4 linked regions of the Homo sapiens genome follow. The protein of the gene in region 1 interacts with the protein of each later gene in a biochemical or structural test. Each region holds a gene or a part of one and is shown in the gene's direction. Other genes may lie near its edges.

Region 1 (4,080 bases):
GAAGTGAGCTGCCCATCCTGTGGAGGTATTCAAGTGGACTCAGTGCTGGGTAGAGGGTATGGCTATGTGTTGGGGCCCACCTTTGTTATCTGATAAAAGAAAATACATGGGTAGGTGTGGTGGCTCATGCCTATACTCTCAGTGCTTTGGGAGACTGAAGTGGGAGGATCACTTGAGGCCAGGAGTTGTAGACCGGCTGCCCTCCCCCACCCCCCCTTCTACAAAAAAATAAAAATTAGTGGGGTGTGGTGGCGCATGCCTGTACTCCCAGCTGCTCAGGAGGCTGAGGTGGGAGGATCTCTTGAGGCCAGGAGTTTGAGGCTGTAGTGAGCCGTGATCATGCCACTGCACTTCAACCTGGGTGACAAAGGGAGAACATGTATCAAAAATAATAATAATAATAAAAAAAATAAACAAAAACGCATTGAGCCAGGCACGGTGACTCAGACCTCTAATCCCAGCACTTTGGGAGGCCGAGGTGGGTAGATCGCTTGAGCCTGGAGTTTGAGACCAGCCTAGGCAACATAGTGAGACCCTATCTCTGCAAAAAATTTAAATAAAATTAGCCAAGCATGGTGGTAGGCGTCTGTGGTCTCAGTTACTAGGGAGGCTGATACGGGAGGATTGCTTGAACGCTGGTGGTTGAGGCTGCAGTGATTCCTGATCACGCCACCGCACTCCAGCCTGGGCAACAGAGTGAGACCCTGTCTCAAAAACAACAGCAACAAAACATTGATGGCCTACTCCGAGGCAGGCTTCGCAGTAAGCACTGGGTGAAGACCAAGGAGAGCAGCTCACATTTATTTACCCCTGAACCATCTCTATGGGCCATACCCGAGGGTAGGGACCTCCTTCAACGCCTCGGAGGAAATTGTCTGCTGAATGAATGAATGAGCAAACACGTGGAGGACTGGGCCGGGACGCCCATTTAGAGACTAGGACACAGTCCCAGGGCGGCCCGAAGTCACGGAGCAAGATCGAATCGGAGCCGATTCCAACTAGAGCCCTCTCCAAAGACCGTCTGCCGCTCTATCCGGGGATCGCGACACCCATTTTCCAGGCGAGGAAACTGAGGCCCTGGCCCTGCACCTCCCCCGCAGGGGAGGCCCTCGCTGGGCGGGCGGGGTGCGAGTAGGGGCCGCCCCTTCTAGGGCCTGCGCTCGGCGGGGTCCGCGAGCCGGCGGGTGGGCGGGGAGCTGGCCGGGGGCGGCGCGCGGCTGGAACCTGAGCCGGCGGAGGAGGGACCCGCGGGCGGACGGGCGCCGGGCGGGCCGGCCGGGATTCAGGAAGCGCGGATCTCCCGGCCGCCGGCGCCCAGCCGTCCCGGAGGTAAGTGGGGCCCGGGCCCGGGAGGGGCGGCTCAGCCGAGGTCCCCTCGCGCCCCTGGGGACATCTCCGTGGCCCGTCCGGCTCCGGGGGGTCCCGAGGCTCCAAAATGCGGGCCAGGGGCGCGGGAGACGGAAGGCACCAGGTTCCGCAGGCGCCAGCCTCTCAGCTAAGTGCCCTTGGGCCGGACACCGGCTCTTTGGGTCTCGGTTTTATCACCTGTGAAATGGGCACCAACGTGGGGCCTGGGGTAGCAGGTCTGGGGGGAGGGCGGTTCGGTTCCCTGAGACCCCAAGCCAGGGAACCAAAGGCCCGGAGCCTTGCAGCCCACCTTAGGAGACTTGGAAGAGGGATTTCGGGGGACCTAAGGTTTGCCCTTGGCCCCTGAGCATGTCGGAGGGAATTTGGAGTCTGGAGCTTCCAAAGGCTTCTTCTTGGTTACTGAGTCCCGGAGAGACGGCTGTTTCCTCCAAGAGGCATGAAAATCTTTAACCTCTAGTTCTGCCCTGGACTCTCAGGACGTCCCGGGGGCGGGTGGCTCCTGGGGGTGGGTAGCGGGGGTGGGGGTGGGGGAGAGAGAGACTCCCACACTCCCCGCTTGCCTGGAAACACCAACCACAGATGCATTCATCGAGCCACCCACTGCTCCAGCCTGCCCCAGCTGTTCCCTCTGTCTGTCCTCTCTGTTTTGCAGATGGGGAAACTGAGGCTTAGGTCGGGGATCTAGACAATTGGGATTTAAACCCAGGGACTATCCAGCCCCAAAGCCCTTCCCACCACACCAGGTGGCCTGTCCTGGGGCCAGCTCTGCACACAGGGCCTGGTGCCCCCGGGGTGCTTGGGAAGTGGCAGGGCAGAGGTGGGCCCTGTGGCTGTTCTGGCTCAGCTTCTAAAACAAGAGCCTCTGCTGGGGGCAGAGGGGCCGTGAACCCCTGAAATGTTAGGCAGATACCCTGTGGGAGCTTTGTTCTGGGATGCTAAGAACCGCTTGAGGATTTAAGCTTTGCCACTTTGGCTCCGGAGCAAGGGCAGAGGGTAAGTCGGGACTCCCCGGGCTCCTGAGGAGGGTGACGAGGTGGGCTTTTGGGGGAACAAGGGTAGAAAGGTCAGGCCTGGGTTATCTGCGGGGCTAAGAGCGGGCCTGTGTGGGGCCCGGGGTGTGCTCTGCAGTCCCCTGCTGTGTGACCTTGGCCTGGTCCCTTAGCTGTCTGAGCCTTTGTGTTCTCTCCTCTGTAATACTGGGGTGCCTGAGGGCAAGCCCCCAGGGCTGTCGTGAGGACCGATGACCTTCCAGGAACCTGGCACAGCCACTGTTGGCTGCCATCAATGTTTAACCAGTTGTCGTTGCCCCAAACATTTTCTTAACAAAGAGGGTGAAAAAAGTCAATTGGCCATTTCCACATTTCTCTAGTTCATTCTGTTTGAAGAATGATGGGAACCAGAAAGCCTGGACACCCACCTTGATTGGTGAATTGCACGCGGAAGGGGTCCCAGACACAAATGGCAAATGGCAGTCATAGTTCAGGGCGGTTCACTTTGTAAGATCAAGGTGGGGCTGTTTTGAAATGGAGGTAACCAGGGAATGGTTGCCTGAACAAAAAGGGTGTGATGCCCCCAGGAGGGATGTTTCACATGAGCTCCGGTGAGGATGGCTGGGATTCCCCAGGTGAAACCCAGATACCTTATATCTGGGGAAGGGGCTGTGGAGGTTCCTCCTGCCTTATCTGGTGCCAACTGGGCCTCTGCCACTTACTCCCTCCTCCAGCAAATGCTCTCTGCAAGCTCACCTGTGCCAGCTCTGGGCTGGGCACTGGAGCAGTGAGATGCTTCCAATCCCAGCTTCGCTGTAGCCTGAGGCGTGTGAAGGCAAGAAGGATTTTCCCTTGTGGCCCCCCGGGGAGGAGCTCCCACACCTGACTTGTGAGCATCTAGCAAGGTGTGCATGGATGGCCGACGCTTAGTAAATGTATGCTGTGGAATGGATGGGGTCAGGGGAGAATGCCGTAGGGTAGGAGGACTGGCCCAGGAAGGACCCACGAGGGCTTGGTCAAGGTAGTGTTTAAGCCGCACCTTAAAGAATAAATGCAGAAGTAGAGGAAAGAGTATTCAGGCAAAGAGAATGGCACTAGCAGAGATATGACTTTTACCTGTTACCAGGTGGCTACACCTGGGGTTTATAGAGCAGAGAAATAGTTCTGTTTGTCTGGAGTTTGTGACGTGACTGGAAAGGGTGAGGGATCAGACAGGCAGGAGCTAAATCAGACCCAGAGGCCCAGAAGTCCTGCCTGGGAGTGACACGGTTGTTTGTCTGTTCTAGAAAGGTCCCTGTGGCTGCAGAGTGGGAAAGATTGGAGGAGCTCAGACAGAGAGGCTGGCCCCAAGGCTGGGGAAGTCATCCAAGCTCTGAGTGGAGAGCGGCAGCTGGAAGGAGATGTAGGAGGGAAGGAAACACACAAGACTGAGCCTCATGTGCCTGGCACATAGTAGGTGCTCAGTCAGTATCTATGGCATGGTTGTCTGAACAAATACTTTTGAGATGGTCAAAGTCCTTTGAGTTCCTTCCTCTGTTCCTAGGGGGATGGGGTCTACATGAAGTGGGTGTCTCTACTCCATGCAGGCCCTTGACCCTGCTGTCTGCCTCAGTTTCCCCCATTTGACTTTGGGAAAGACACTCCAGTCCGTTCTCCAAATTATAGGGACCCAGGTAACAGCTCCTCTTGTTGTCACAGATAGGGTCTGGGGAGCCAAGATAAC
Region 2 (3,500 bases), on another chromosome or scaffold:
TTAGCCCAGCATTTCAGAAACACAGATGACAAAATGGCTGTAGATAAGGCAGTGAAGGACAAAACCATAAAATCCGTTTTATGTTGTTTAAAGGCAGTTAAGCTTTTATTCTGTAGGATTGGATCATGGGGAGCCATTGAATAATTTTGTAGAAAGGAGTGATGTGATCTGATTTGGATTTTGTAAATATCATGGAAGCAGTGATCTAGGAAAGAGTGGATAAGGACCCGACAGCAGGGATGTAGAAAGTGGAATAAATGAGATATTTGGCAATTAGAATTGATAGGATATATTGATACTCTGGATTTAGGGGATAATAGAGGGAGGAATCTAGAGCCCTTGGATTTGGGGTTGAACATTTGGCTGGAGTTTAGGATGTAGCTAAAATTGTCAGCTACTTATAATAATACCAATTTGGTATGGTTGTGGAATCTTCTGGCAGAATCCATAAGCCCATTTTTAGGTAAATGGGAGGAAGATGTTAATTAGACCAATTTTGAAGTTGAGAAAAATGCATTTGTAGAACAATAGAAACATAAATATGTATAGCAGGTAAAATGCAGGCAAAAAATATATACATGGAAAGTCTTCCCATTGTTTCGAATACTGGATGCAAATCAGCATTTGATTCTTGATTTAAACTTAGAAGTAATGGAAAGAGTGAAATTTTAATAAATGCTAAAGAAGTTTTATGGACTCAGAACAATTAACTCATAAAAGATTCCTTCCTCTAATGAGAGTTAGCACTCCTATCCCTTGAGTGCCAACATCATCATCTTTGTCCTTATAATAGCACTTATAATCTTAGTAATCTAGTCTTGTAATTTTGTTTAGAAAAATCAACCTGTAAAGTACCTGGACAGGTCCATTGCCGCTTTGTTGATTATGAGGTTTAGTAACGTGTACAGGGCTTGGTACTCAAAGGCTTGATGGATGAGCCTCCTCATTTTATAGTGGTAGAAACTGGGGCAAGATTTTGTTTTGTTTTTTTATTTTTAACATTTTTTTTTTAATATTATAAGAGTTCACAATGTTGAAGAGTTAACTTCTTGTGACTGGTTACTTTCAGGATGACAACTGTTTCTTTACTTTGTTTTTTTTTTGTTGTTGTTGTTGTTTGGTTTTTTTTTTTTTTTTAGATGGATTTTTGCTCTTATTACCCAGGCTGGAGTGCAGTGGTGTGATCTCGATCTCGGCTCACTGCAACCTCAGACTCCTGGGTTCAAGCAATCCTCCTGCCTCAGTCTCCTGAGTAGCTGGGATTACAGGCACGCGCTACTAAGCCCGGCTAATTTTTTTGTATTTTTAGTAGAGACAGGGTTTCACCGTGTTAGCCAGGCTGGTCTCGAACTCCTGACCTCATGATCTGCCCACCTCGGCCTCCCAACGTGCTGGGATTACAGGCGTGAGTCACCGCTCCCAACATGTCGGGATCACAGGCGTGAGCCACCGCGTCCGGCCTGATTATTAACCATCATTTATTTGTGCCTTACTAGAGCTCTGTATAGAGAAGAGTTGTGGGCTTCATCTGGACTCTTCAGGACAGAGAACAAAGGGGCATAGGCACAGGAGGGAAGTATGGTAGCACCCAGAGAGATAGATAAAGCCATGGTCATTTTTTTATACACACACTTTAAGCATTTTATTTTTCAGCAGAAAACAACAGCCTTGACACAGATGATCACTTTAAACCATCACCTCGGCCAAGGAGTATGTTGAAAAAGAAAAGTCACATGGAGGAGAAGGATGGACTAGAAGATAAAGAAACTGCCCTCAGTGAAGAATTGGAGTTACATTCTGCACCTTCTTCCCTTCCAACGCCGAATGGCATACAATTAGAAGCTGAGAAAAAAGCATTCTCTGAAAACCTTGATCCTGAGGTTAGCACTACCACTAAACTGTTGAATTGTGTTCTTGAATTTATGCTTTTTTATCTGATTATGAAAAAGAGAAGGAGAGAATGAATTTGTGTGCGTGTGTGTGTGTTTTACATACTTTCTTCTGCAACTGATAAGGAAATAATTTTTAAAAATACACTGTATTCCACCGAGTCTAAAACTGCATCAATTGTAAGACGTAGCATTATTTTACATACCACTAAGGAAGAAGGAAATGCATCCAATTAAACTATAACACACCAGTGATTGTAGAGTTTATCCAGTTTTAGAGAAAGTAAAATGTCAAAAAGTGTTGCTTTTCTGAATCTATATAATAGTGTTTATCTTTAATAATTTTTTAAATTTATGTATCTTTGAATTATGTAATTTATGGCTAAGAACAATATAGTCAGTGTCATTTTATTTATTTGATTTTATTCACTCAACAAATGTGTGTTGAATGTTCATGGCACTCTTCTGTGTTCTTTGGGTTATGTTCCAATAGCATTAAATGTGGCCTTTCAGGTTTCCATCAGGGAATTTACTATGCATTGTTATTAAGGGAGAACACTTCGTTTTTCTCTTTGTATTTCACTATGAGAAGCAAACTGTCCCTTCTGAACATTTCAGAAGGGAAAAGTACAGGAAGAACATTTCTTCCCCATAATCTGCTTGGGCAGATTAGGGAACTGCATGCCACCTGGCCAAGCTTCTTTCTTTTTCTCATCGCTTGTCTGCAGTGTTGGTGCTTAAGGATCTGCTCTCTGGGAGGTGAGGCAGAAGGTGCTGAGAGGAGCTCTTTTGTGCAATGACTAAATGGGGGAATCCCCCTAATTCAGACTGGAAGTATTAGGAAGCACAATAGGCTACCAATTCAAATCTTGTTCTGCAGTTGAGCTTTACCAGTAAAGCTGACAATTTGATATACGCCTAACTGACACCACCATGCTGTTTCTTAATTTGTTCTGAAAACCAGAAGAAGAAACCCAAGCAAATACTTTATATTTAAGAAAATTATCTGATCCATTGAATATTGTGCTAGTTTCTTGTAGCTGCTGTAACAAATTGCCACAAACTGGTTAACTTAAAACAACAGAAATGTATTCTCTTAGTTCTGGAGGTCAGAAGTCCAAGATCAAGGTGTTTGCAGGGCCATTTTCCTCTGAAGGCATCACGGAAGAATCCTTCCTTGCCTCTTCCAGCTTCTTTCTAGTGGTTGCCAGCAGTCCATGGCATTCCTTGGCTTGTAGCTGGCTTGTAGCTGCATCATTCCCTTCTCTGCCTTCATCCCATGTGGCCTTCTTCCCTGTGTTTTCTCTGCATGTCTGTGTCTCTTCTTTCTCTTAAAAAAAGACACCAGGCATTGGATTTAGGGCCCACCCTAATTGAGTGTGTCCTCATCTTATCTATTTAAAGCTGTAAACACCTTATTTCCTAAGAAAGTCGTATTTTGAGGTTCTGGATGAACATGAATTTTGGGGCATTAATGTTCGTATGTTAAACCTAGCATTCCCGGGATAAACTCTGGTTAGTCATGGTGTGATATTTTATTGTGGGATGTGATTTGTTAAAATTGTGTTAAGGTTTGCATCTATATTTATGAAGTCTATTGGTCTGTAATTT
Region 3 (3,500 bases), on another chromosome or scaffold:
TACTAAAAATACAAAAATTAACCAGGCGTGGTGGCGGGCACCTGTAATCTCAGCTATTGGGGAGGCTGAGGCAGGAGAATTGCTTGAACCTGGGAGGCGGATGTTGCAGTGAGCCAAGATAGTGCCACTGCACTCCAGCTTGGGCAACAGAGTAAGACTCTGTCTGAAATAATAATAATAATAATAATAATAATAATAATAATAACCATCTTTAATGCACATAGTACTGATAGGATACCACATAGTTCCACATTGATGATTTCACTTTGAGCCTTATAAAAATCCTGTGAGGTAGGCACAATAGACATTACTACCTTTAATTTACAAATTAGCAACATAAGGCTCTGAGCAGTTCCACTACTTCGTAGTGGAAGAACTAAATAACTAAATATGTTATATTCATCATCACCTATCTTTTCTGTTTCTAGTTCTCATAATTTTTCTTTTTTTTTTTTTTTGAGACGGAGTCTCGCTCTGTTGCCCAGGCTGGCACAATCTCAGCTCACTGCAAGCTCCGTCTCCTGGGTTCACGGGATTCTCCTGCCTCAGCCTCTCGAGTAGCTGGGACTACAGGCGCCCACCACCACGCCCAGCTAATTTTTTTTTGTATTTTTAGTAGAGATGGGGTTTCACCATGTTAGCCAGGATGGTCCCAATCTCCTGACCTCGTGATCTGCCCATCTCGGCCTCTCAAAGTGCTGGGATTACAGGCGTGAGCCACCGTGCCCGGCCAGTTTTTCTACTTCTAAAACAATAGTGTGGAAAAGTTGATATTGTAGACTTTTCTTATGTTCTTATTTACTGGCATTCTTTAAATGCGTTGATACTTGAATGAAACATAGATTGTTACATTTTTACCATTAAGTCATAGGTATTTAATTCTACGTACCACTTCTCCAGGTCACTGTTATTAAGGCCTAATTAACTAACACCCATGCACATTGAGATTCTACATCACATTGTTCCTTTCTTTTTATTCTGCCAGTGCCAAAAGAAACAGCATGTGTATAATTCAAGATACTTTGTTATGCTAATCTTAGAAGTTTTGTGACTCTGGTATTAAAGCTAATGACTTAGTAATTATTTTTGTAGTTTTCTTTTTTTTTGAGACAAGAGTCTGGCTCTGTTGCTTAGGCTGGAGTGCAGTGGCGTGATCTTGGCTTACTGCAGCCTCTGCCTCCCGGGTTCAAGTGATTCTCCTACCTCAGCCTCCTCAGTAGCTGGGATTACAGGCATATGCCACCATGCCTGGCTAATTTTTGTATTTTTGGTAGAGATGGGTTTCACCACATTGGCCAGGTTGGTGTTGAACTCCTGGCCTCAAGTGATCTGCCCGCCTTGGCCTCCCAAAGTGTTGAGATTACAGGTGTGAGCCACTGTGCCTGGCCTGTGGTTTTCCATTATAGTCAGAAGGGCTCTGTGAGTGTAATCGCTGGCAACCATGTGTCAAGCACACTGTTTCCTGATCACTTTTCTGTAGTTTAAGAGTAAGTAGTGCATAGAATATAAGACGATGTGAAAGAAGATAATTTTGAATCTTAATCATTTTAAATATAATTTCTTTCCATGGAACAGGATCGTTATCAATAAACAAAAATATTTGTAGGGCCCCTGACATGGTACTTTCAGAGAACTCTGTGGTTAACAGAATGATTCTGAGTATCTCACCTAGTTATAAAGATATTTACTGAGGGAAAACAAGATATCAGCTTAGGTTCCCGCACATGTTTATTTTAAAAGATAGTAAAGCCAGCATTCTAGTTTTGGATCATATACTGTCTTACTTATGTATTGTGGGTACACTGTAGTGGAGAGGCTTTGTGTGTGGTTCTACAAAATGAGGCATAATAAAGCTATTTTGAATTCTGCCTAGGTAAAAACATTTAAATAAAATGATCAGTCTTAAAATTATTCTTTTCTTATAAATTTTTTTTAAAAAATTTTTTGTAGAGACAAGGTCTCACTATGTTGCCCAGGCTGGCCTTGAACTTGTAACAATTCATGTTTCATTCAAGTATCAATCAATGCATTTAAAGAATGTCGGTAGATAAGAACATAGGAAAAGTCTACAATACCAATTTTTCCCCACCACTGTTTTAGAAGTAGAACACCTCAAGTGTCCCTCTTGCTTTGTCCACCCAAAGTGTTGGAATAACAGGCATGAGCCACTGTGCCTGGCCCTTGAAATTATCTTAATCCCCAGTTTTTTTCTAAGTGCTGTTAAGATACCAGTAAACCGGAACATGAATAACTGCATTCAGTCTGAGCATAGAAAACTGCTTAGGGACAAATGGAAGGGAAACTTGGTCTTTAGACCTTACTGTAGAGCCTGGATAATATAAACTAAACTATTCAGAGTTATGTGTCAGTAGATGGTGGAAGAATGTGGTTATGGAGTGAAGGAAGGAACACTTTCAGGCAGGGTTTAGTTCTATCAAGTCTACTAGTAGCAGGGGACTTAGGAAGAGAAGGTCCAATGCAAATGAACCCTGGGAAGGGATAGTTAGTAGGAAAATAATCACCAGATATAATGAACTGAAGACACGTATGAAATGTAACAACTACTAATCAGGTTTTATAAATAAAGAAATTTATGACAGAAAATGGGCTTTCACAGGGAAAGCACATATGCTGATAGTTTGTATCAGTCATGATATTAATCTTCAGATGTAATATCGTTAATCTCCAGTGGTTACATCAAATACTACCTCTTTCACTGGCCTATTTTGAGTCCATAAGCATAGGTAAATTTCCTGCCCTCTGAATTCTGCTTCATAGTAGAGTACCTTGTGTTTCTTTCAGTTTTTCCCAATAAACCATTATAATTTCCCTGTCTCCAGGAGCTGATGTCTGATTTATTTTTGTATCCCACATTCACAGATCTTAACATTTTACAAGATAGTTCCAAGTAACCTTATTTATTCATTTAAGTAAGTAGTGAACAATTATTAACTTGGTTCCTAAATCTTTTCTAGGATATTAGGAATTTACGATTTGCTCATAAACCTGAGGGGCGGACAAGAAGATCCATATTTGAGAATCTAATGAAATATGCATTTCCTGTCTCTAATAACCTGGTAAAATGTTTCCTGTCTTTGGAAAATTTGTGCTATAATTATTGATGTCGTATAAAGAAACTTGTCTAGGCTGTCTAGAATCTCTACATTTACATCCCTGCTTTGACATTTAACCAGATGTATAGTGTAAGTGTAACTTAGTCTCTTAGATCAATTTCTTTAGGTATGAAATAAAGGAAGCTGGACTAGCTGATTTCTGAGGTCCATTCCAGCACTAACATTTTATGATTATATGATCTTGCTATTCAGGGTGTTTCCATGATGAAAAGTTACCTGTTGTCTTCATTAGGATTTGTAATCTCCTTTTTAATTGGGAGCCAGTTAACACTAGCAATTTGGGAGGGAGGTAAGGGTAGGCAAACCCTGAGTTCCCACTATGTGCTTTAGACAGTGTTAGACTCCCACGTTTATATCATTTCACTT
Region 4 (3,500 bases), on another chromosome or scaffold:
TTACTTCATGGGGAAAAGCAGGAATCTTACCCCTACCTCCACAAACTAAGGTGTTTTCCAAGCTCCTGACTCTGTGATGCCACTGAGAGAACTGGTGGTGGTAACAGGACACGAAGGCTTCAGCCAATAGCAACTTCACCTCCTGTGCCTGAGGCAAGACCACTGGAACAGGAAGTCTGAGCAGGTTGTTCCTCTCCCCACCCAGGGCCTCCGTGACCCTCTTTTGCCCTTCTCAATCAACAGTCAAGGGTGTGGTGGTTCTGGAGGGAGCCTGCTCACTTCACTTGTCTCCACTCACTCTTGCCTTACTCTCACTCTGGTGCTGTCCTGTCCCTGGGATAGGGAATAATTCTCTAGAGAATCCTTCTTATTCTTCTGCACCAGCTTCCTCTCCTAGCCTGCTGATAGCTTTCCACTTCAGAGGCATAATTTATGATTCCTCAAAAGGTGAGGTTTTATTCTCTGAATTATTGTTTCTTTTGCAGTTCCAGTGTGGTAAATCCAGCTTCCAGTGTGATTGATATGTCCCAGGAAAACACAAGGAAACCAAATGTGTCTCCAGAGAAGGTAGACTGAGCCCAGATTTTGAAAATCTTGTATTTGTTAGGAATGCCATTTTTCCTCATTGTGTCAAAGCACCACAAAATAAAGAGAATTTTGTAGTACAGTTTTTTGGTACCAAATACAGGTAATTTTCACTATTTTAAGAAGTCACTAGTTTAAGAAGTCACTCTCATGGTGGAAAAAGTGGATGGATACCATGTCATTGCATTGCTGAAGACCCAGATTTCTTGCCCTAGAGGGTAAAAAGTCTGAAGCTATTTGGTGCTGCTGCTTTTTAGCATATGGAATAAGGCTTGTTAGTTCCATGTCAGTCCTTATTCCTATATTCCTATGCATAGCTTCCTAAATCTCTGTTAGAGATCTGCTTCTGGGAGAGAATTGCTAATTTATTAAACTATAGACAGTAAACATTGTTATTGATTCCTATATTAATTTTTAAAACCTCTATTGATACCATTTTTATCATTAGAATTGATGATAATAATAATGACTATGAAGCACTTCAAGATACCTAAAATGTCTCCAAAATCTTTAGGAAAGGTCAATTACAGTTGTATTTTGTACACTTGTGATCTAGCACACTGAGAGTCTGGTATGGTAGAAGAATCACTGGTGGGACTCTGACCTGATTAGAGACCCAAGTTTCCTTTGACCTTGATCTGGTCTTTGCTATATCCGGGGCCAAGTTTTTTCACCTGTAAAATGTGGGATTTTGATTTAAGTGTCTGATTCTGAGCTAACTTTGTAGGACTCTGGCTTTGCATATATTTTATATAATTTTTAAATGGCATATATGGTAACTCTGTGCTAAGCAGATTAATCAGGACAACTGTTTTTCAAACATGCCAAATAATGGAGTTTATGGGATAAAACTATCAAAATTGAAGATAATAGGCATTTGCCAACACTGAGTTGCTGTCATGACATTTAAAATAAGTTTAATAAACAATATTTGTCCCCAGCAGAGGAAGAATCCGTTTAATAGCTCCAAGTTGCCAGAAGGTCACTCATCACAACAAACTAAAAATGAACAGTCAAAAAATGGAAGAACTGGTTTATTTCAGACTTCAAAAGAGGGTAAATATTATTTTTATGAACTTGATTTTTTTATCTTTGTTATCTGTGGACTAAGGGAAATTCTCAGAGTTCCTTTTGCTCAAATAACTTCCAAGAGAAAGTGAAAAGTCCTGATGGTTTTCTTATTTTACGGTGCTTGTTGGTTTCCTTCCTGAGGGAGAGGAAGCAGAAATTTGAGAAACTGATAGCTCACGCATTCCAGTCTCAGAGCTGTGACTTGTTACGTGACTTCCATTGTGTCTTGGATTCCCTCATCAGTAAATTGGGAGATTTTTTGACCCAAGACATTCAGTCTTCCACTTAACAGTATTTATTAGATGCCTACTGTGTGTTCACAAAGTTCTGTTTAAAAGGGCTTGCCTCAAGAAGAAAAAGCCTGTTGACAATGTTATGATCCTCTAATCTGTAATTCTCAGCCCAGCCGCCCAAAAGCGTTTGATCAGGTTTGTGGCTCAATTGATGTAAGTCAGCCTGCTATGGAATTTTATCATTTTTATATACTGTTAAGAGGAAATGCTAAACATTTCAATCTCTTCAAAAGCAACTTGAAGAAGATTCCACAAGCATTAAAGAGTGGTTAGGGGTAGAAAATTAAAAAACAGTGGAGCTGGGGTTTTCAATTAGCCTGTCTGAATATTAAAATACTTTCCACTGGGCACGTTTTAGATTACATAAAATATTTTGTAGAAGAAAATCACTGGAACATGTTAGATGTTTGTTTTTAACTTTTCTTTTTTTTTTTTGGCCATGGAGTCCCACTCTATTGCCCAGGCTGGAGTGCAGTGGTGCAATCTCGGCTCACTGCACCCTTCGCCTCCCGGGTTCCGGGGCTTCTAGTGCCTCAGCCTTCTGAGTAGCTGGGACTACAGGCGTGCTCTACCACACCCGCCTAATTTTTGTATTTTTAGTAGAAATGAGGTTTCACCCTTTTGGCCAGGCTGGTCTCAAACTCCTGGACTCAAGTGATCCACCCACCTCGGCTTCCCAAAGTGCTGGGATTACAGGTGTGAGCCACTGCGCTTGGCCTGTTTTTAACTTTCTGACAAAAATAAATTTTGTGTTAGGTAATGGGGTTTTATTTTTTTAAACTGAATTTCCTTTTCTGATTTCTGCAGGTGAATTTAAGTGACTTCTATGTTTTTCTTTAAGCCTCTTTTGAGAAATTTTCTTTTCATTCTTAAAAAAACTTTCTGTATTGGGTGTAAAATAATCACAAACTATATAAAGCACAGTAATCTTAAATGTACAGTGCAATGAAGTTTATACATGATTTTTCGAATAGACGTTATTTTTTAGAGCAGTTTTAGGTTCACAATATTGAGCAAAAGATACAGACGTTTTCCATATACACCCTCTCCCCACACAGGCATAGCCTCCCTCATTATCAACATTCCTCATGAGAATGGTACATTTGTTACACGTGATGAACCACATTGAGACATCACTATCACCCAAAGTACATCGTTTACATCAGGGTTCACTCTTCATGGTGTACATTCTATGGGTTTAGACAAAAGTATAATAGTGTGCGGCCACCATTGTAGTGTCATAGAGTAGTTCCAGTGCCCTAAAAGTCCTCTGTGCTCCAATGCATGAATTTTTAAAAGCTTTTCACATTAGGCCTGTAGTTGTGCCACATACTTTACTGTCTTTAATATTTTAATAGTTTCACTAAGTGTAGGTTAAGTTTATGACAGGTATTTTAAATTATATATTACTCTCTATATGATATATCACCTACTGTGTTTTAATTTTCAGATGAATTGTCAGAGTCAAAAGAAAAGTCAACTGTCGCAGATACTTCAATCCAAAAGTTAGAGAAATCAAAGCAGACTTTGCCAGGCCTTTCAAATGGGTCC

The links. The genes of interacting proteins can lie anywhere in the genome.
Region 2: the proteins of TRPV4 (region 1) and MAP9 interact in a test that uses a peptide from one of them, tested with the Homo sapiens proteins (one large-scale study listed by BioGRID).
Region 3: the proteins of TRPV4 (region 1) and MTMR2 interact in a test that uses a peptide from one of them, tested with the Homo sapiens proteins (one large-scale study listed by BioGRID).
Region 4: the proteins of TRPV4 (region 1) and SYTL2 interact in a test that uses a peptide from one of them, tested with the Homo sapiens proteins (one large-scale study listed by BioGRID).

Annotation. Positions count from the first base shown.
Region 1 is NC_000012.12:109,830,599-109,834,678, reverse strand, and holds the start of TRPV4 (transient receptor potential cation channel subfamily V member 4), read left to right. Parts: upstream 1-1,280; 5' UTR 1,281-1,329; exon of another isoform or gene 1,330-1,331; intron 1,332-4,080. UniProt on the Homo sapiens protein: Non-selective calcium permeant cation channel involved in osmotic sensitivity and mechanosensitivity. Activation by exposure to hypotonicity within the physiological range exhibits an outward rectification.
Region 2 is NC_000004.12:155,366,966-155,370,465, reverse strand, and holds part of MAP9 (microtubule-associated protein 9), read left to right. Parts: intron 1-1,653; coding exon 1,654-1,880; intron 1,881-3,500. UniProt on the Homo sapiens protein: Involved in organization of the bipolar mitotic spindle. Required for bipolar spindle assembly, mitosis progression and cytokinesis. May act by stabilizing interphase microtubules.
Region 3 is NC_000011.10:95,858,108-95,861,607, reverse strand, and holds part of MTMR2 (phosphatidylinositol-3,5-bisphosphate 3-phosphatase MTMR2), read left to right. Parts: intron 1-2,975; coding exon 2,976-3,077; intron 3,078-3,500. UniProt on the Homo sapiens protein: Lipid phosphatase that specifically dephosphorylates the D-3 position of phosphatidylinositol 3-phosphate and phosphatidylinositol 3,5-bisphosphate, generating phosphatidylinositol and phosphatidylinositol 5-phosphate.
Region 4 is NC_000011.10:85,734,642-85,738,141, reverse strand, and holds part of SYTL2 (synaptotagmin-like protein 2), read left to right. Parts: intron 1-485; coding exon 486-567; intron 568-1,526; coding exon 1,527-1,641; intron 1,642-3,399; coding exon 3,400-3,500.